3 linked regions of the Homo sapiens genome follow. The protein of the gene in region 3 interacts with the protein of the main gene of each other region in a pairwise test. Each region holds a gene or a part of one and is shown on either strand. Other genes may lie near its edges. The genes, in order: FNDC3B, NLRP3 and ABHD8.

Region 1 (7,106 bases), on a different chromosome or scaffold from region 3:
TATTTATATACATGTGCTACCAAACAGCATGCAGCTCTATGTTTTAGACAAAATAGAAGAAGCTTTGATGATAATTATCAATACATGCATGAGAATTTCCAATGTCATGGTTTAAGCACCCACTTCACATACACTTGTAAATTAGCTTCCATGCATTCATAAATGGGGTTAGTGTGATTAGCTTGCCAAGGCCCAGAAGAGATTATATTTATTAAAGATCACATGAAAAGCTGTGTCCTAGGCATCTCACTAGGAATCTTAATTTTAAATAGGTAATATTATCTTATTTATGAACTATTAACACAGTAGAAACATTTATTTTGATAGATTTATTAATGAATGTAAAGATTTCTGTTTTTTTAACATAAGGATTAATGGCCGTTCATTCAATCTAAACCTATTTTGTACACTGAAATATAACATAAACATTGATAGACTTGCCAATCTGTCTTAAGCACTACTTTTAAAATATGAAGCTAAGTATAGTTTTTTGTTGTTATTAAGATGTTTTAGACATGATTAAGTCATTTTATTTTGTCCTATAATTAACCTCCTGAGGTATAATGAGAAATCCATTTCAATATAGAAGGTCAGTTTTGTGCGGTTTTTAGATTTTTTTTTTTTTGTAAAACAAAACTTCCTGTCAGAGTGTGTGCCCGATCGTGCATTTGATTAGATCAGCTGGCATGGCTTCTTGGCAGCCTGGCCCTCACTGCCAGGTTTACTCCGTGTCCACTTCCTTGCAGGGCCCTGACCTAGAGGCCATCTCTCAGCTGTCCCAGCCCTGCCAATTGTTTGAGGTCCCTGAAGCCTTTCCTGATTCTCCCATCTCACGTTATCATTCTCTGTACCCTACAACTTTACCTTTTCATCATGGTATCTGTTGTGTTAGTTATTTCTTTCATTGTGTTTCACCAAAGTTGTTTGCTCATAGGAGCTGGTAGTGTGACGCTGGCCACAGAGGCAATAAATATTGGCATTGTGCTGCCTTCGTTGCTCTACTTGGATGAATTAGAAAACATTCAGAGGAGCTGGGCACGGTCGTGCATGCCTGTAGTCCCAGCTACTTTGGAGGCTGAGGCAGGAAGATGACTTGAGGCCAGTTCAAGGCTGTAGTGTATGATGATCACACCTGCGTGTAGCCACTGCACTTCAGCCTGGGCAACAGAGTGAAATCCCATTTCTAAAAATAAATAATGAACAAAGAATTGGAAAAAGAATGGATAGAGTGTTGATTGGCTTGCTTTTCTCATAGCAGGTTGCTTTTCCAAGCATCTTCTTTCACAACACTCATCATGAGGACATCTTGGGAGCAAAAGTGTCCATACTGATTTGGGGTTACTTAAGTTTTTCTTTGGTCAGAATCCCTCATTTCATCCATATCCTCAGTCCTAGATTAAGTAATCTTAGGGCACACTTACGGCTTCTGACGTTAATGCCACCTTTGTTTCCTAAAGCCCTGATGATGATGGAACTGTGCATGTTAAAGCAGGAAAGGGGAAGAATGTTGTCAGCATATCTAGAAGCCTAGCCCTGGAAAAGTACTTAGGTGGCACAGAAAGCCTCTTTCTGGAAAACCACTGAACTGATAGTTAAATTCAAAAGTCACTCCTAGAATCAGTTTCAGCACACATTAAATTCACTCGTCTTGGATGAAGCCAGTGAAAATTTTAAGACAAAAACAAGATTTATTATCAAATACTGGTCTCTCCAAAAAGTTACATGGGATCAGAATCAGATGTCAATGAATAATTTGTTTTTGTACGTTTTTATAGTTACATGTTATTACTTCTAGAACTCATTTGACTGGTTGAACTAGAGAACCAGAATACAACATGCATTTGTTTTTTTCTATGGTGGAAGAGAAAAGTAAAATTAAAGTGGAAGTTATTAATACTATATATATTCATAGGCTGCTAATATGTACTGCGTTCTTTCCTTTTGTGTTTTTCTTTAGGTGATTGAAGATAGTACTGGAGTCCGCCGGGTGGTGGTCACACCCCAGTCTCCTGAGTGTTATCCCCCAAGCTACCCCTCAGCCATGTCTCCAACCCATCATCTCCCTCCCTATCTGACTCACCATCCACATTTTATTCATAACTCACACACGGCTTACTACCCACCTGTTACCGGACCTGGAGATATGCCGCCTCAGTTTTTTCCCCAGCATCATCTTCCCCACACAATATATGGTGAGCAAGGTGAGTAGATTTTCGTTGGCGTCAGGAGCCGTTGAAACTGATTACAGCGTTTCAATAGTTCAAGGCGGTCCTTTGTTTCTTGTGAAATAAGCATAGTAGAAAAGGATCTAGGTGGTTTGTAAGACTCATGGGGAATTCCTAGCTTCCTTTGTCCTGAATGGTGCCTTGGAAAAATTACTTTGTGGGTTTAGTTCTTTTTCTTTCTTTCAGTTTTCACAAACTCGGCCCCAACCCCCACCTTACAAGATCAAGGAGTAAGGTAGCCACCTTTTATTTTAGAAAAGTGGCAGTGTGACATCGTTCCCATGTCCTGAAAGCATGTTTGTATGTGAGAGTGGCCTGAGGTACAACTGTGGCACATCGTTTCTTTGGTATCCATATGATCTACCAGTTAAAGGGAAATTGAAAAGTGTTTTGTGCCCCATTTCCAGTGTTTGAAGATTGTGAAGTCTCAAGAACCTTTAGGTTTCCTAAAAGGCTCTATGTTGTGATGCTGGCAGAACTCAAAAATCCCCTGGCTGTTGATGTGGCCTTCCTGAACCTGCTTTTAGTTTAAGAGTAGCCATTAGTGCAGCCGCAATTTCACTGATTGTTAGGCAAATACTTACCTGGATATGAAAAGAGCCTCAGAGCTACCAACATTATATCTTTTTAAAGTTTTGACCCTGGTGTTGGTTTAGTCTAAAGGCTTTCTCTATCAAAATGGATACTAAGAAACCAGATAATTGAGGGTAAAATTAGACTTTAGCCTCTAGGACTTTGCAAAGTGATTTTCTTCTGAGTCTGACTATGAATGGAAGCATTTTACTGCTTCAGACATTTATTATGTTGGTTTAGATACATTGTAGAAGAAATGCCTGTTATACCATAGAATGTTTGAGCAAGTTATCACTTTTAAGAATTATATATATATAATTATATAATTTCTATATAATTAATTATTTATTTATAATTATATTTTTATATATATAATTATTCCCTGTTCATCTCACATTATAACTTATTCACAGAAAAAACTTTTTTGAGATGATATTTTAAGTGAAATATATCGTTGTAACTTAGGGATAGAATTTGACTGTATGTGTGTTTTGTTTATTTTTTTTTGTAGTCAAAGAAATTTGACATGATTCAAATTAATCAGGTGCTTTCACAATGTCGTATAAGGGGATGATAGCAAAACATGAAATCAATACTTTGATTTCATAGCAGCATCAATAACTTCCTATCAATTTGATCTTTTTTCCATGCGACACACCAAGAAAACATCAAGTATTGGGGATATACTATGAAAACATTTGGATAAAAACTGAAAAAATTTAGTTAGCTGTAATTTTTTTAATGTATTCAGTGCTTTGACTCAACATGCATTAAATAATTGAGTGTTTCTTAGAGCTTTCTGGCTGTATCTGAGCTCTGATGACATGAAAGGCCTTGGTGACTGACTCATTGCTTGCTGGTATATGTCTGACTTGCCTTATTTTAGCAGTCTGTTAGTAGGATGCCACATGGTTACTGTTTTGTAAATGCTGTCCTTTGCAATTTTAGGCAAGACAACAGTATGATTTAAATCGTCATTAGAGTTAAGCAAAATTGTAGTCTCTTCATTTTATGGTGTATTTGGGTCTAATTCCATTAAAATAACACAGAGCAATAATGTATGCAAATAAAAATGCCTTCATTGATTTCAAATTAAAGCAGTAAAACAAAATCCCTTCCCTTTATAAATAAGCCATTGATATATTCTTTTACCTTAGTTCTTAGTGTGCATACCTAAAAGCAATTTAAATATTAATTTTCTAAACTATAAGAGTTTTAAAAGTTTTCAACATGTCTGAAAAGATTATTACTGCCCATAGTGAATATGTTAAATCTCATGTGTAATACATCGTGGTGTTTAGAACATTTACTATCCTTCTGGTATATTTTGACATAGTTTCTTTGGATACACACTCTCTGAATAGGATTATATTTGTTTTGACACGTTCTCTAGTGCAAACTGGTTCTCTCATGAAGATTTGTTTTTTAACAAAACAACTCTTGTTTATGCTTTAGCTATGTTAACAGTAAGAAACAGTGGAGCTTTACTGTTGAGTAATTGAGACAGCAGTTTTGTTAAATTATGCAGGGTAACCATACATTTCTGTTGTGCCTGTGACAGTCCTAGTGTAGGTCTCTTGCCTTGAAGAAATTATTGATATTCCTTCCTTTTCGCTCTCAGAAGTGTTCAGATTTGGATGGTAATTTATATTGTCACTCCATAGAAGAGGTGACCCTTTTTTCTTATAAAGATGTAAGGACCCAATCTTTATGTTACGCATTGTCATTTTTACTGATACCTAAAAATAATTTTGAACTGATTTAAAAATTTAAATTTAACATAAAGTTTTCCCCTTGAGATCATAAGATTGCTTGCAGGCTTCTATTTTCTTTTGAGCCACTTTAAAATGTGCATAGTAAAGTCAGGTGACATTCTACATTTGTCTTGCCTTCTATTACTCCAAAAGAGAAGTTTGAGACCACAGCTTATTATGTTTGGCACCAGATTTCAGAGATGGCTTTTCTTTATCCTTATACTTCCTCCTTGAACATTTCCCCTGATTCTGTGAGCTTTGATTATTTTAAATGGAAATATGTCATCTCATTATCTTAGTTAAATTTGTTCAAATGTTGGCTCTTTTGTATGCCACAGAAAACTTTGACTGCAATATACTTCCCAGTAGAAATACTATTCTGTCTACAGGGATGAGTAGACTTTTAAAGTAGCTTGATTCTAAGTACATGTTTAATAGGGGTATTTTATTTGTTCTGACTTTTTCATGTATTGCAACTACTGAAAACATATTGAAAGGTAAAAATCAAACTCAGTTATAAATGCAACTAGAATATGAGCTCTTTAGGGATAACAACCTTGTCTTCAGTATTCTCTGTAATATAGGAATTTTTCTGAACACACAGTGTAGTTTTTAATGATTGATTATTCCTTGATTGGTTAGAAACAAATGGGAATGCTTTAAATGTATATCATGTATATGGCATTTTCTTTTTTCTTTTTCTTTTTGAGACAGAGTCTTGCTCTGTCGCTCAGGCTGGAGTGCAGTGATGCAATCTCAGTTCACTGCAACCTCCGCCTCCAGGGTTCAAGCGATTCTCCTGCCTCAGCCTCCTGGATAGCTGGGATTATAGGCGCCTACCACCACGCCTGGCTAATTTTTTGTATTTTTAGTAGGGATGGGGTTTCACCATGTTGCCCAGGCTAGTTTCGAACTCCCAAGCTCAGACAGTCCGCCCACCTCGGCCTCCCAAAGCGTGAGCCACTGTGCCCAGCAGTATTTTCTTAAAAAATATTTATTAGACTCTATTTAGTAATACTTTAGACTTCCTTTATACTTTAGACTTCTTCAGGAGCCAGATCATTTGACCATTTAATAATTTATTATTGAAAATGTAAACTGAGTTTGGGTTTATCATAATCATCCATTTTAGAAATTATACCATTTTATGGAATGTCAACCTACATCACCCGAGAAGACCAGTACAGCAAGCCTCCGCACAAAAAACTGAAAGACCGCCAGATCGATCGCCAGAACCGCCTCAACAGCCCTCCTTCTTCTATCTACAAAAGCAGCTGCACAACAGTATACAATGGCTATGGGAAGGGCCATAGTGGTGGAAGTGGCGGAGGCGGCAGCGGTAGTGGTCCCGGAATTAAGAAAACAGAGCGACGAGCAAGAAGCAGCCCAAAGTCGAATGATTCAGACTTGCAAGGTAATACTCAAGATGTTTGCCATAGAGTGAATTATCAAGACAGAGACATCTCAAATGATGTTTCCACATCTTTTACATGAGAATATTATTTCATGGTGGTTGGTTGTTCTGCTAAGAATATTTGAGTAGACCTTCTTTGATCTATTTCTTGGTAAGGAAATAATATTGCATTGTTTATTTTTTATTAATACTTCATGGCAGAAATACTACATTTTGGTCACAGATGCCATGCAACTTTGCACTTAATAACAAATATTTGAAAATCTTTTCATGTTAGCCTACTTCTGTTGTTTCACTCTCTGAATAGACAGATGTGGAAGAAATCCAAAGATAATTTTTCTAAAAGTGTAGGCTAGTTTAAATCTCAAAATAATTATACCTCATAAACCATACGTAATTACTTCCTTTCTGTAATGAAATCTATCATTGAATCACAGAAATATGTTTCTGTTTAGTTTTGGCATCAGTTATTGTCTCATACCACCTTTTGCCTGTGAATTAAGTGTTCAGAAACTAAGAATAAGATGGAAGAATGAGGGCCACCACATATAGGTAGAGAAACATCAACTCAGAATGGCATCTGTCTTTTTGTAGATGAATCTCTTGGGTAGATCAGTTCATTTGGAGGAAGGTTTATGTGTTTAAATGAAGTTTTGGAGGTAGTTTAGAGAGAACCTATTTTGATGCCACATAAGGAAAAACAGTGGCTATTTCTATAGGCATAGGGAAGAATGACTTAAGTGAGGCAAAAAAGGTAGCATTTGGATAAGGTAGGTGAGTTTATAGATATAAATGACTGGAAAACAAAGACTTGAACAACTTTTAAACATAAGATCAATTATTTCAAGTAGATTCCCTTTTTCATTCACAATCACATTCTCACAGACACAGTCCCAGTTTCTACCTGACTGAGATGCAGTAAGGAATCTGATTATAACACTCATTGATTATAACACTCATTGAATTTATGGATTCCTTACTGCATCTCATTCAGGTAGAAAAAGGGACTGTGTCTGTGAGAATGTGATTGTGAATGAAAAAGATGGAATATGTGTATTTTTGAGTGTCTATGGAAGAGCTTCTGACAAGAGAGAGGAAGATTAGGTAAAATGAAATATCGCCGTCGGCATTTCCCCCTAC
Region 2 (8,020 bases), on a different chromosome or scaffold from region 3:
TCATAATCTGCATTTTTTTAATATAGGGTCTCACTCTGTCACCCAGGCTGGAGTGCAGTGGCACAGTCCTAGCTCACTGCAGCCTCAATTTCCTGGGCTCAAGCGATCCTCCCACCTCAGCGTCCTGAGTAGCTGGTACTACAGGCATGCACCACCACATCCGTCTATTTTTTAATTTTTTGTGGAGATGGGGTCTCACTATGTTGCCCAGGCTGCTCTTGGCCTCCTGGCTTCAAGTGATCCTCCTGCCTCAAACCTCCCAAAGCGTTGGGATTACAGGTGTGAGCCACTGAAACTGGCCTGACCTACAATTTGAATACTACTGTACAGTTTACATTTTGCTGTCAGGTATTATTTTATTTATTTTTTCCTCTCTACAATAATGTATTATAGATCAGGTCTTGTTTTATTTGAGCCTCACAGGAAAGCTGAGGTGAGGGTCGCAGGCAAGGAGTCGGACCACAGGAGTGGTCGCAGCATTCAGCGGAGAGTGAAGCAGCGAAGGCTGGAAACCTCATCTGCTTCTCGTGAACTTCCCACTGCCCCAAGTGACTGATGTCCTTACACAATTGCAGCCAGTTCGCCAGCTGCATGAGTGACAGTGGCATAATTGACGATTGCCAAAAACGGAAACAGCCCAACTGTCCTTTGCCTAGGGAATAGAAAACCAAATTGTGGCCTATCCAACCCATGAAATACTTAACTGCAGTAAAAAGGAATAAGCTACTGATCTGAATCTCACAGGCATCATATGAAGTGAGCGGACTCGCTCACCAAAGGCTGCACACTGTTTATGTGATGCTCTGGAAAAGGTAATGCTTTAGCAGGTGGAAGAAGTGGGGCTGCGGGTGGGGACAGAGGCTGACTATGTGGCAGCACAGTGGGTGGGGACAGAGGCTGCACAGGGAGCATGTGCAGCTGATGCAGGTGCTCTGTGTGGGCTGTGGTGGTGGGTAGCTATATGCTTGTGAGCACTCACAGGCCTGTGCATGAAAAAGGTGCGAATATTTATTTTATTGTACATATTTCAGGTGTATAACATGGCAGTTTGATATACATAGTGAAATGATTGCTGCAGTCAAGCAAATTAACATGAGTTAACATAGCCACCATCTCACATAATAATCTTTCTTGTGGGTGGTAAAAACATCTAAAATCTCTCTTAGCAAATTTCAGGTTTATAATATTTTTAACTATCGTTCCCACACTGTTTGTTAGATCTCTCGGCTTATTTATCCTACATAACCGAAATTTCGTACCCTTTGACCGTCATTTTATTTCCTCTACCCCGGTAACTCTCTGTTTCTATATATTCAACTATTTTTTTTTGAGACAGGATCTCGGTCTGTCACTCAGGCTGGAGTGCAGTGGTGTGATCTCGGCTCACTGCAGCCTCGACCTCCCAGACTCAAGCAATCCTCCCACCTCAGCCTCCCAGCCTCTCAAGTAGCTGGGGTGACATGTGCACACCACTGCACCTGGCTTCCTTCCCTCCCTCCCTCCTTTCTTTTCTTTTTTTCATTTTTTTGGTAGAGGTGAAGCCTCACTATCTTGCCCAGGCTGGTCTCAAGCTCTTGGGCTCAAGTGATCCACTCACCTCAGCCTCCCAAAGTGCTGGGATTACAGGTGTGAGGCACCACTCCTGGCCTAACTTTTTTTTTTTTTTTTTTTAAGGTTCCACATATGAGTGAGATCATGTAGTGTTTGTCTTTCTGTGCCTGGCTTATTATGCTTTGTGTAAAGTCCACCGGGTTCATCTATGTTGTGGCAAATAGCAGAGTCTCAATTTTTAATACTAACTAAGATTGTATTGTGTATATATGCCCCAAACTCTTTATTTATTCATCTGTCAATAGACACTTGGGTTGTTTGCCTATCTGGACCATGGTGAATAATGCTGCTATGAACATGAGTGCACAGATGTCTTTGTGAGGTGGTGATTTTATTTCCTTTGGATACACACTCAGAAGAAGGATTGCTGGGTCATACGGTAGTTCTATTTTTAATTTCTTTAGGAACCTCCATATTGTTTTCTGCAATGGCTGCACCAATCTGCATTCCCAGCAGCAATGTGCAAGGGTTCCCTGTTCTTCACGCCCTAGCCAATGTTTGTCTCTTGTCATTTTGCTAATAGCCATCCTAACAGGTTTGAGGTGGTACCTCATTGTGGGTTTGGTTTGCATTTCCCTGATGATTAGTGATGTTGAGCACTTTTTTGTATACATGTTGACCATTTTTGTTTCTTTTTTAGAGAAATGTCTATTCAGTTCCTTTCTTCATTTTAAAAATCAGATTATTTGTTTTATGCTTTGAGTTGTGTGAATTCCTTACATATTTTGCATATTAACTACTTATCTGATATATGGCTTAAAACTATTTTCTTCCAATTTGTTGGCTACCTTTTCACTCTGTTGATTGTTTCTTTTGCTATACAGGAGCTTTTTACTTTGATGTATTCCCACTTATTTATCTTTACTTTTGTTCCTTTGCTTTTGTTGAGACATTAAAAATATCCATGCCAAGGCTAATATCAAGAAGTTTTCTCCTCTGTTTTCTATTTTTTATATTTAGTTTTTTATCTGTTTAGAGATTGGGTCTCATTCTGTTACCCAGGCTGGAATGCAGTAGTGTCATTATAGCTCACTGTAACCTCAAATTCCTGGGCTCAAGTGATCTTCTTGCCTCGGCCTCCTGAGTAGCTGGGCTACAGGTGCACAGCACCATGCCTGGCTAATTTTTTTTTTTTTAATTTTGTAGACACAAAGTCTCACTATGTTGCCCAGGCTGACTGTGAACTTCTGGCCTCAGGTGATCCTCCTGCCTCAGCCTCCCAGAGTGCTGGGATTACAGGCATGAGCCACCATGCCTGGCTTCTTCTCTATTTTCTTCTAGGAGTTTTACAGTTTTAGATCTTATGTTTAGATCTTTAATCCATTTTGAGTTGGTTTTTGTGTGTGCCAAGTTTTATTCTTTTGCGTGTGGAAATCCAGTTTCACCAAAAGCTTAATTTTTCAAAATCTTATATTTTTCTTGATTTTTTTTTCACACTTCTATAGCCAACATCTTTATTGAAGAGATTGTCCTTTCTCCATTGTGTCTTCTTGGTGACCTTGTCAAAGAATTAGTTGACTGCATATACTTGAGTTTATTTCTGTTCCACTGGTCTATGGGTCTGTTTTTATAAAGGCATGGATTTTTACTGCATATGAATTATACCTAAATTTGTCTTTTTTTTTTCCTTTTTCTGGAGAATGGGGTCTCACTATATTGCCCAGGCAGGTCTCGAACTCCTGGGCTCAAGCTATCCTCCCGCCTCTTGCCTCCCTGAGAGCTGGGATTACAGGCGTGAGCCACTGCGCCCGGCTGAATTATACCTAAATTAACTTGACTAAACAAACAAAAACAAAAAGATCCCAGGTTCAGCCAATGAGCTCCTTTTTTTTTTTTTGAAATGGAGTCTTGCTCTTGTCACCCAGGCTGGAGTGCAGTGGCACAATCTCAGCTCACTGCAGCCTCCACCTCCCAGGTTCAAGTGATTCTCTTGCCTCAGCTTCCTGAGTAGCTGGGATTACAGGTGCCCGCCACCACACCCAGCTATTTTTTTTTATATTTTTAGTAGAGATGGGGTTTCGTCATGTTGGCCAGGCTGGTCTCAAACTCCTGACCTTGTGATCTGCCTGCCTTGGCCTCTCAAAGTGCTGGGATTACAGGCATGAGCCACTGCACCCAGGCTGAGCTCCTTTCTTTTGGAGCATATTTGGTCTGCTTTCTCTCTAGCTTCAGCACCTGAAGTTTTTGCTGCTCCTGCCTCAGCTCCAGCCCCGAATGACACCTTTCACCTGGTTCATGGAGACTCAGGTCTGCTGTCATGCCCCTAAGCAGGACTAGATGCCTCTCTCATGTTGTAGAGCATTCTCTCTGCAGTTCTGTAGAAAGGTGGTAGTCATCGGAACCAACTGCTTATTCTAGCTTCTCTGTGCCAGGCTCTGTTTTAAAGGCCTCACGTTTAGCCATTCACTCAGTGTTTTCTGACAGCCTTCTAGGATAGGTACCGTTATTTGGGTTGATGTAGTGCTTGGTCAAATGCAGTATAATGAAGGGATCAAGGAGGGGGCAATTCCAAGCAAAACCACTTGTTCATCCATCCTGAGTCTAGGAGATTTGGAAGATCTAAAGAAGTAGCAGGCAATTATTGTCACCCTTTTACAGGTATGAGGCACAGACAGACCCAGTCATTTGCTGACATCCCTCCACTGAACTGGGTGCTCGTCCTTTTCACTCACCCAGAGGCTGAGCGAGTGCCTCTCACCCACCAAGCTCTGTTGAACTTGTGCCTTTGCCGGTCTGTGGTCCTGCGGCCGTCTCATGAGCTGCAGAGTAGGTCTGTGTGTGTCTCTCCTCAAGCTACTCAAGCTGAGGCTTTGTGTGCATGCCTGCCACATACCAGCCATTCCGTGAGTGTTAGTGGAACAGGTGAGTCAATGAGTCAGGGAGTAAAATTTGTGCTTTAAAAGTAGAACATGTCGGAGAGAACCTGTACTGCCTTCCAGCCATCTTGCTGTGAGAGGACAGGGCATGGACTCTGGAGTTTGAAGGCTGGGTCAGGTCATGCTCTGGATTCTTTACTCACTCGCATGGCATGTCCTTAGTTTCACTTCCCTCACTCTCAGTGGAGCCGTTGCAGCGGGCAGTGTCAGAGGCAACATCCATTTAGCACTGCCGATTTGACCCCCAGCCCCATCTCATACTGGCCTCCCACCCTGCTTCTGTGGGGTGCCTCAGAGGAGAGCAAGGTGAACCCCAGTATGGAACCGAGACACGGTTTTGACAACACTGTTGATCCCATTTGGAAAATCCAGCTATGTGATTAACCATTAGTCTCTCTGCCTCTGCTCTGATGTAAGTGGAGACCACATCCTTCCTGCCCCTTCTGGGGCTGCGACTGCTATAAATTCATTGCATTTCCTCTCTAGCTGTTCCTGAGGCTGGCATCTGGGTAAGTCCAGCTCCGCGGGGCAGTGTGGGCGACAGGACCGGGAGAGCAGTGGGGGAGATTGTGTTCAGAGGGCAGAACTTGTCCTGGTTAATGCACTAGGAATTTCTTCTGGCGTCTCCAAGGTTGTGCTTCAACAACATTTCTGGAATGTTCTTTTATCATTATTTGGGCTCTACGTGTGCAAGTTCGTGTGTGTGTATGTGGCGGGGGGAAGCGGGGAGGACAGCGGCAGCAACCATAGTTTACACCCACGACTTCAGCAGATTTGCCCAGTATCCCTCCCAGGGGAGAAGATGGATGGGATATACAGAAGGAAACAAACCTCCTTAAAGACCAAAGGGCAGCAGATTTTTGTGCTGGTGTTAGGGTGGAAGGAGCACAGAAGAAAGGCAGAATCCTGATGCAGATGGAAGGACTGATGGGGCAGGAGCTGGGAGGGTATGCGGAGCTAATAGGGCTGTCTGGAGAGCAGTCACCTCAGGATGGGCAGGAGCTGGGAGGGTATGCGGAGCTAATAGGGCTGTCTGGAGAGCAGTCACCTCAGGATGCACAGGGCTGGGTTTGCAGGGCTCAGGAGGCGAGGAGTAGATAGGCAGGAATGGAGATGGGACGGGAGAGATGAGTGAGTCTGAGGCATCTTGACATTGAACTGCAGTCACAGAAATTCCAATTTGGAGAGCTCCACCGTTTTCCAGGCTCTCTGCCTCCCTTGAGTGTTATTTATGGCTTTAGGTTGAGGTGCTTTGCCAAATAGAGTATAATCAAGGGATCAAGGAGGGAACAATTCCAAACAAAGCCAACTTGTTCATCCATCCGGACTCTAGGAGATATGGAAGATCTAAAGATACAGCAGGTGATTGCTAGTTTTTGTGGAACTCACAGTCTAGTTGGGAAGACTATGTTGGTGAATGCTGCAGTGATACACCTGTGATAAATGCTGGGGAAGTGTGTCTTTTAGTCATCTATTTTGTTGTCTTTGTCTTTGTCTGACTGAAACAAGTGATGGAAGACATGGTCTCATATCTCTGGTCAAAATCCTGGCTCTGTTCCTTCCTGGTTCTAAACCCCTCGGCAGGCTTCCTAGTCCCCCTAAGACTCAGTTTATGCATCTATAAAATGGGGCTAGGAATAGGTGCACCTCATAGAGCTCTGTGCAGGTTAGATGGGGAAAAACATCAGTGAGTGCCTAGCCTGTGGAAAGCTCTAAATTAATGTGAATTATAATGATAACAATTGCGAATTTTGCAAGGAGACATTAAAGGATGTATGTTTTTATTTATTTTATTTTATTCTATTTTATTTTTTGAGATGGAGTTTTGCTCTTATTGCCCAGGCTGGAGTGCAGTGGTGTGATCTTGGCTCATCGCAACCTCCGCCTCCTGGGTTCAAGCGATTCTCCTGCCTCAGCCTCCCGAGTAGCTGGGATTACAGGTGCCTGGTACCATGCCCGGTTAATTTTTGTATTTTTAGTAGAGACGGGATTTCTCCCTGTTGTTTGGTGAGCCTGGTCTCCAACTCCTGACCTCAGGTGATCCGCCCACCTCGGCCTCCCAAAGTGCTGGGATTACAGGGATGTATGTTTTTATTATTCTCCATTATGCACTCCCAGCTTCATCTCACTTCAATCCACTGGTTGATAGAAGTGCAGTCAAAGACTGTCCCCTCCTCTGCAAGCTTTTATGTTCTCTCTCCTCTCTCCCTAGCCACGTCCTGTTCTGTTATCAACACACTTACTCACCTCCTGGCCTTCTCCTTCTATTGTCTCTCATCCCTCTTCCCTCACAAAAACAGAAGCAAAGAGCCAGAGCCTTCAGTTTGGAGGAACTGAAAACATTCTCTTCTGCTTTCTCATTTTGTAGATGAGGAAACTGAAGTTGAGGAATAGTGAAGAGTTTGTCCAATGTCATAGCCCCGTAATCAACGGGACAAAAATTTTCTTGCTGATGGGTCAAGATGGCATCGTGAAGTGGTTGTTCACCGTAAACTGTAATACAATCCTGTTTATGGATTTGTTTGCATATTTTTCCCTCCATAGGGAAACCTTTCTTCCATGGCTCAGGACACACTCCTGGATCGAGCCAACAGGAGAACTTTCTGGTAAGCATTTGGCTAACTTTTTTTTTTTTGAGATGGAGTCTTGCTGTGTCGCCTAGGCTGGAGTGCAGTGGCGTGATCTTGGCTCACTGCAGCCTCCACTTCCCGGGTTCAATCAATTCTCCTACCTCAACTTCCTGAGTAGCTGGGATTACAGGCGCCCGCCACCACACCCGGCTCATTTTTGTACTTTTAGTAGAGACACAGTTTTGCCATGTTGGCCAGGCTGGTCTTGAATTCCTCAGCTCAGGTGATCTGCCTGCCTTGGCCTCTCAAAGTGCTGGGATTACAGGCGTGAGCCACTGTGCCCGGCCTTGGCTAACTTTTCAAAATTAAAGATTTTGACTTGTTACAGTCATGTGACATTTTTTTCTTTCTGTTTGCTGAGTTTTTGATAATTTATATCTCTCAAAGTGGAGACTTTAAAAAAGACTCATCCGTGTGCCGTGTTCACTGCCTGGTATCTTAGTGTGGACCGAAGCCTAAGGACCCTGAAAACAGCTGCAGATGAAGATGGCAAGCACCCGCTGCAAGCTGGCCAGGTACCTGGAGGACCTGGAGGATGTGGACTTGAAGAAATTTAAGATGCACTTAGAGGACTATCCTCCCCAGAAGGGCTGCATCCCCCTCCCGAGGGGTCAGACAGAGAAGGCAGACCATGTGGATCTAGCCACGCTAATGATCGACTTCAATGGGGAGGAGAAGGCGTGGGCCATGGCCGTGTGGATCTTCGCTGCGATCAACAGGAGAGACCTTTATGAGAAAGCAAAAAGAGATGAGCCGAAGTGGGGTGAGTGGAAGGAAGACTTTTAAAAAAAATTGTGGCCAAGTGCACATAGTGTACAATTTTCCATCTTTATATATATATATATATATATTTTTTTTTGAGACGGAGTTGCTCTTGTTGCCCAGGCTGGAGTGCAATGGTGA
Region 3 (7,106 bases):
CAAGGAGTTTGAGACCAGCCTGGGCAACATAGGGAGAACCCCCTAGCTCTACAAAAAGTACAAACATTAGCTAGGTGAGGAGGTGCACGCATATAGTTCCACCTACTTAAGGGCTGAGGCAGGAGATTGCTTGAGTCTGGGAGGTCGAGGCTGCAGTGAACTGTGATCACACCACTGCACTCCAGCCTGGGCAGCATGGCAAGAACCTGTCGCTCTTTAAAAAAGAAAAAAAAATCCGGGCGCGGTGGCTCACGCCTGTAATCCCAGCACTTTGGGAGGCTGAGGCGGGCGGATCACGAGGTCAGAAGATTGAGACCATCCTGGCTAACACGGTGAAACCCTGTCTCTACTAAAAATACAAAAAATTAGCTGGGTGTGGTGGTGGGCACCTATAGTCCCAGCTACTCGGGAGGCTGAGGCAGGAGAATGGCATGAGCACGGGAGACGGAGCTTGCAGTGAGCCAAGATCATATTGTGCCACTGCACTCCAGCCTGGGCGACAGAAGGAGACTCCGTCATGAAAAAAAAAAAAGGGGCCACCACGCGCGGTGGTGCACATTTGTAATCCCAGCACTTTGTGGATGGATCATTGGAGATGAGTTTGGACAACATGGCAAAACCTTATCTCCTAAAACAAAACAAAGCAAACAAAAATCCTAATTTTTCTCCTTGAAAAAAATCCCATTTTTCAATTTAATTTTTACATTTTTAAAATTTTTTTTTCTTTTAAATAGAGATGGCATCTCACTATGTTGCCCAAGATGTTCTTTAACTACTGGGCTCAAGTGATCCTTGCACCTCAGCCTCCCAAAGTGCTAGGACTACAGGTGTGAGTCATTGTGCTCAGCCTTAATTTTTTTTTTTTTTTTTTTTTTTGAGATGGAGTCTCACTCTGTCCCCCAGGCTGGAGTGCAGTGGCGTGATCCTGGCTCACTGCAAGCTCCACCTCCCAGGTTCATGCCATTCTCCTGCCTCAGCCTCCCTAGTAGCTGGGACTACAGGCACCCGCTACCATGCCTGGCTAATTTTTTGTCTTTTTAGTACAGACGGGGTTTCACCGTGTTAGCCAGGATGGTCTCGATCTCCTGACCTCGTGATTCGCCCTCCTCGGCCTCCCAAAGCGCTGGGATTACAGGCGTGAGCCAACGCACCAGGCCAATTTTCAAGTTCAAAAAAAAATTATATAGAGAATGGGGGGGGGGTCTCATTATGTTGCCCAGGCTGGTCTTGAACTCCTGGGCTCAAGCCATCCTCCCTCCTTGGCCTCCCGATGTGGTGGGGTAACAGGCATGAGCCGCTATACCAGGCTGAAAACTCCCATTAGCATATGTAATCAGACAGGGATTTCCGTCATCACTGATATTGTTTCACATTGTTCTAAAGCAGTGTTGCTCAGGCCAGGTGCAGTGGCTTACGCCTGTAATCCTAGCACTTTAGGAAGCCAAAGCAGGCAGATCACTTGAGGTCAGGAGTTCAACACCAGTTTGGCCAACATGGTGAAACCCCATCTCTACTAAAAGTACAAAAAATTAACCAGGCATGATGGTGTGTGCCTGTAATCCCAGCTACTCGGGGGTGTGAGGCAGGAGAATCACTTGAACCTGGGAGGCAGAGGTTGCAGTGAGCCAAGATCACACCACTGCACTCCAGCCTGAGCAACAGAGTGAGACTCTGCCCAAAAAAAAAAAAAAAAAAAAAAAAGCAGTGTTGTTCAATCCCAGCACTATCGTGTTTGGCCAGGTTATTTTTTTTCTGTGAGGGGCTATAGGATGTTTAGTAGCATCCCTGGCTTCTGCCCACTGGATGCAACTACACAATCTAGTGTTGATCATGACAGTCAAAAATGTCTTCAGTAGTTGCCAAGCGTGCCCTGGTGGGCAGAATTACCCCCAGCTGAGAACCACTGCCTTAGACTAAGTTAAAAAATCAACTGCCCTGGAGAACACTGTGCATTCAGGAAGCGCTCATCGGAATCCTGTAAATTCTAGGCATTTACAAAGGCATGGGTTACTGTAATTCACTCCTGCTTAAAGGGCAGGTAATACAACCTAAAACTTACCAAGAACCCCTCCATGGAAGGCTTGGTCCCCAGGGCTTGACCACTACCAAGTGGCCTCATTCTCTCCTTTATCCAGGAAGAAAGGCAAGATTGAACAGCCAGGCAAGTTGAGCACCACTGTTTTAGAGATTCTAGCCTATGCAATTAGACAAGAAAAAAAGGCCAGGCGTGGTGGCTCACACCTGTAATCCCAGCAATTTGGGAGGCCGAGGCGGGCGGATCAGGAGGTCAGGAGATCAAGACCATCCTGGCTAACACGGTGAAACCCCGTCTCTACTAAAAAATACAAAAAAAAATTAGCCAGGCATGGTGGCAGGCGCCTGTAGTCCCAGCTACTCAGGAGGCTGAGGCAGGAGAATGGCGTGCACCCAGGAGGTGGAGCTTGCAGTGAGCCGAGATTGTGCCACTGCACTCCAGCCTGGGTGACAGAGTGAGACTCCATCTCAAAAAAAAAAAAAAAGAAAAAAGAAAAATAAATAAGTGGCCAGGTGTGGTGGCTTACACCTATAATCCCAACACTTTGGGAAGCTGAGGTGGGAGGACTGCTATAGCTGAGGAGTTCAAGACCAACCTGGGCAACATAAGCAAGATCTCATCTCTACAAAAAACTAAAAAGTAAAAAAAAAAAAAAAAGAAAAGAAAACAAAGAAGTTACATAAGTATCTAAAAGAAAGGAATCTAGACTGAGAGGTAACAGCTCTTATTTGTTTATATTTCTTTATATAACATACTCAAAAGTTGATGCTTATGAGAAATGATTCCTCTAATTAAATGAGCACCCACCTGCTGGGCACAGTGGTTCACACCTGTAATCCCAGAACTTTTGGAGGCCGAGGCAGGCGGATCACAAGGTCAGGAGTTCAAGACCAGCCTGGCCAAAATGGTGAAACCCCGTCTCTAATAAAAATACAAAAAGTAGCTGGGTATGGTTGCAGGTGCCTATAATCCCAGCTACTTGGGAGGCTGAGGCAGGATAATCATTCGAACCCATGAGGTGGGGGTTGCAGTGAGCCGAGATCGCACCATTGCACTCCAGCCTGAGTGACAGAGCAAGACTCTGTCTCGAGAAAAAAACAAAAAAACAAAAAAAACACCCACCTACAATAGTTCCCATGACCCCATAACAGTGCTATTAGGTCAGCACATTTACAACTTCAGGAATGTGGAGGCTGAAGCTCAGAGAGGTGAAGCAACCTGCCCAAAGGCATACAGGAAGTCCCTGACACAATCAGGTCTGCCTGACTCCTGTCTGTATCCTTTCCTCATTACAGCAGGGGCTGGCAAACATTTCCTTAAAGGATCGGATAGCGAATATTTTAGGTTTGCAGGCCATACAGTCACTGTTGGAACTTCTGATAAAACTTTATTTAGGAAACATTTTTTGGCCAGGCACGGTGGCTCACGCCTCTAATCCCAGCACTTTGGGAGGCCAAGGTGGGCAGATCACCTGAGGTCGGGAGTTCAAGACCAGCCTGACTAACACGGTGAAACCCCGTCTCTACTAAAAATACAAAAATTAGCCGGGCATAATGGCAGATGCCTGTAATCCCAGCTACTCGGGAGGCTGAGACAGGAGAATCACTTGAACCCGGGAGGCGGAGGTTGCAGTGAGCCGAGATCGCGCCACTGTGCTCCAGCGTGGGCAACAGAGCAGGACTCCATCTCAAAAAAAAAAAAAAAAACCTTATTTAGGAAACATTTTTCAAATCTCCAAAAGTGTAAACTGTATTTAAAAAAGCAAATGACTAGCCCACAGGCCGTACATAGTTTGTTGACCCCTGCTTTTGTAGGAATGAGGAGCTCAGCTTTGGGGGCTTCTCAGGCCTTCCATCTTGTATAAGGAAGACAGATATGTCATGCCCAGAGGCAGGTGGCAGAACATCCTGAAAGGGAAGGGATAGTAGGAAACAGTGACCTCCCCTGGGCAGCCGGAAGCATTTGTTTAATCAGATTGCTTTCCTACCACTTGCTGATGAGTAATTCTTACCGCTTTTGGGTCATGGTGGCTTGAAGAATCTGATGAGGGCCGGGCACAGTGGCTCATATCTATAATCTTAACACTTTGGAAGGCCAAGGTGGAAGGATCACTTGAGCCCAGAAGTTCAAGACCAGCCTGGGCAACATAGTGAGACCCCCATCTCTACAAAAATTTTAAACAATTAAAATAAAAAGTCTGGTGAAACTTCTGGATCCAGATTCTCTCTTCAAAATAAGTTCCATCCTCAACACTCAAACTCACACTTTCACGGTATTTGAGAGGCCGCACTCATCCCTCACCCCTTCAGGTGTCCATGGACCCCAGGGGAAGAATCTTGGCTTCCAAGGACCTGCCTTCTGGGTAGGGGGAGGACATGAACCCCCTCACCAGGCCGGGTGTCACGGCTCACGCCTATAATCCCAGCACTTTGGGAGGTTAAGGCCAGAGGATCACTTGAGCCCAGGAGTTCAAGACCAGCCTGGGCAACATAAGGAGACCCTGTCTTTATAAAAAAATTTTTAAAAATTAGCTGAGCATGGTGGCACATGCCTGTAGTCCCAGCTATTCAGAAGGCTGAGGTGGGAGGATCTCTTGAGCCCAGGAAGTCAAGGCTGCAGGGAGCTATGATTACGCCACCGCACCACTCCAGCCTAGGCGACAGCGAAACCTTGTCTCAAAAACAAAAACAAAACAGGCCAGCCCAGTGGCTCATGCCTGTAATCCCCGCACTTTGGGAAGCCAAGGTGGGTGGATCACTTGAGGTCAGGAGTTCTCGACCAGCCTGAGCAACATGCTGAAACCCTGTGTCTACTAAAAAATACAAAAATTAGCCAGGTGTGGTGGTGCATGCCTGTACTCCCAGCTACTCGGGAGGCTGAGGAAGGAGAATCAGTTGAACCCAGGAGGCAGAGGTTGCAGTGAGCTGAGATTGCATCACTGTACTCCAACCTGGGCAACAGAATGAGACTCCATCTCAAAAACAAAAACAAACCAGGCCAGGCGCAGTGGCTCAGGCCTGTAATCCCAGCACTTTGGGAGGCCGAGGCGGATGGATCACTTGAGGTCAGGAATTTGAGACCAGCCCGACCAACATGGTGAAACCCCATCTCTACTAAAAATACAAAAAATTAGCCGGGCGCGGTGGCGGGCGCCTGTAGTCCCAGCTACTCGGGAGGCTGAGGCAGGAGAATGGCGTGAACCCGGGAAGCGGAGCTTGCAGTGAGCCGAGATTGCGCCACTGCAGTCCGCAGTCCGGCCTGGGCGACAGAGCGAGACTCCGTCTCAAAAAAAAAAAAAAAAAAAAAAAAAATTACCTGGGTGTGGTGGTGTGCGCCTGCAATCTCAGCTACTCGGGAGACTGAGGCAGGAGAATCGCTTGAACCTGGGAGGCAGAGGTTGCAGTGAGCCAAGATGGAGCCACTGCATTCCAGCCTGGGGGACAGAGTAAAACTGTCTCAAACAAAAACAAAAACAAAGCAAAACAAAATGGTCACTGCTTGTATCCTGCTGACCGCCTCCCTTCAATCCTCCTATCACCCCACCCGTTCCGGGCAGTGTCTCTTTCTGCACATTCCTGGCACATGAGTACCCAGACCTAGTGCACAAGGTGATCATGATCAATGGCGGGGGCCCTACGGCGCTGGAGCCCAGCTTCTGCTCAATCTTCAACATGCCCACCTGCGTCCTGCACTGCTTGTCGCCCTGCCTGGCCTGGAGCTTCCTCAAGTGAGTGTCCCCACCCCAAAGACCGTGATCCTGGCCCTGGCGAACCCAGGCATCTGCTCGAGTTGGATGGGAGGGGGGACTGTACCGCTGGGACTAGGGCTGGCATCGGGGGCACCCCACGGCAGTCGGGCTGGCATAAGGGGCTCTAGCGGTGCCTCCACCACCACCAGGGCCGGCTTCGCCCGCCAAGGAGCCAAGGAGAAGCAGCTGTTAAAGGAGGGCAACGCTTTCAACGTGTCATCCTTCGTACTCCGGGCCATGATGAGCGGCCAGTACTGGCCCGAGGGCGACGAGGTCTACCACGCCGAGCTCACCGTGCCCGTCCTGCTTGTCCACGGCATGCACGATAAGTTTGTGCCGGTGGAGGAAGACCAGCGCATGGCCGAGGTAGAGGCGGGCACCTGGGGCGCCACAGCTACAAATCCCCAGGGTGCTGCCCGGGAGGGGCGTGGCCTCTGCGGGGGGCGTGGTAGCGCTTGGTGGGCGTGCTTTCTTCCCGAGGGGGCGTGGCTGCCGGGTGGGCGTGGCCTCTAGTTGCTGTATCTTGTTCTGACCCCAGGCAAACAGGAGCATTAGGTCTAGCATCAGAAGTAGAATCTAGAAAGCAGGGCTGCCCTGGACAGGTGTTAGCAATTACGCACTGTCCCCACCGCTGTAAGAAGGCTCTCCTCACAGCGGAGGATTTGTATGAGACCGGTGACCTATATAATTCTAGAAGACCGGCACCAGGGGATCTTTAGATTAGAAACTCTAATTAGCGAGTTCAGATTAGAAAGGGTCTGGGGATCCTTAGCACTTAGAATAGCCCTGGATACTAGCCCGGCGAGGTGGTTCACGCCAATAATCGCTGCAACTTGGGAGGCTGAGTGGGGCGGATCGCTTGAACCCAGGAGTTCAAGGCTGTGGTGAGCCATGCTCGCACCACTGCACTCCAGCCTGGGCGACAGAGCAAGACCCCGTTTCTTAAAGAAAAAAAAAAAAAAACAAAAACCATTAAAGTATAACTGGACTGGTGGTTCTTAACTAAGGAGGATTCTGCCCCCAAGGAACACGTGGAAATGCATGGAGACATTTTTAGGTGTCACGACTGAGGGGGAGGGGGTACTACTGGCATCTAGTGGGTGGAGGCCAGGGATGCTGCTCAACACCCTACAAATGCACAGGATAGCAGCCCCCACCCCAGCTACCCGCCCCTTCCCCGCCCACCCCCGCCCCCCCAGCAAAGAATGATCCAGCTCCTAATGTTGGTAGAGTTGAAGTTGACAAAATCCTCCTCCAGGCCGGGCGCGGTGGCTCACTCCTGTAATCCCAGCACTTTGGGAGACCGAGGCGGGCAGATCGCCT

The links.
Region 1: the proteins of ABHD8 (region 3) and FNDC3B interact in binary tests that used the Homo sapiens proteins (3 or more experiments, as listed by UniProt).
Region 2: the proteins of ABHD8 (region 3) and NLRP3 come close enough for resonance energy transfer, tested with the Homo sapiens proteins (one study listed by BioGRID).

Annotation. Positions count from the first base shown.
Region 1 is NC_000003.12:172,245,576-172,252,681, forward strand, and holds part of FNDC3B (fibronectin type III domain-containing protein 3B), read left to right. Parts: intron 1-1,957; coding exon 1,958-2,201; intron 2,202-5,684; coding exon 5,685-5,966; intron 5,967-7,106. UniProt on the Homo sapiens protein: May be a positive regulator of adipogenesis.
Region 2 is NC_000001.11:247,411,198-247,419,217, forward strand, and holds the start of NLRP3 (NACHT, LRR and PYD domains-containing protein 3), read left to right. Parts: upstream 1-4,975; 5' UTR 4,976-4,996; exon of another isoform or gene 4,997-5,118; intron 5,119-5,215; exon of another isoform or gene 5,216-5,849; intron 5,850-6,855; 5' UTR 6,856-7,597; coding exon of another isoform or gene 7,598-7,603; coding exon 7,604-7,880; intron 7,881-8,020. UniProt on the Homo sapiens protein: Sensor component of the NLRP3 inflammasome, which mediates inflammasome activation in response to defects in membrane integrity, leading to secretion of inflammatory cytokines IL1B and IL18 and pyroptosis.
Region 3 is NC_000019.10:17,293,331-17,300,436, reverse strand, and holds part of ABHD8 (protein ABHD8), read left to right. Parts: intron 1-2,059; exon of another isoform or gene 2,060-2,125; intron 2,126-5,591; coding exon 5,592-5,762; intron 5,763-5,932; coding exon 5,933-6,149; intron 6,150-7,106. UniProt on the Homo sapiens protein: Negatively regulates NLRP3-driven inflammation. Promotes NLRP3 degradation through the chaperone-mediated autophagy (CMA) pathway, hence attenuating inflammasome activation and IL1B secretion.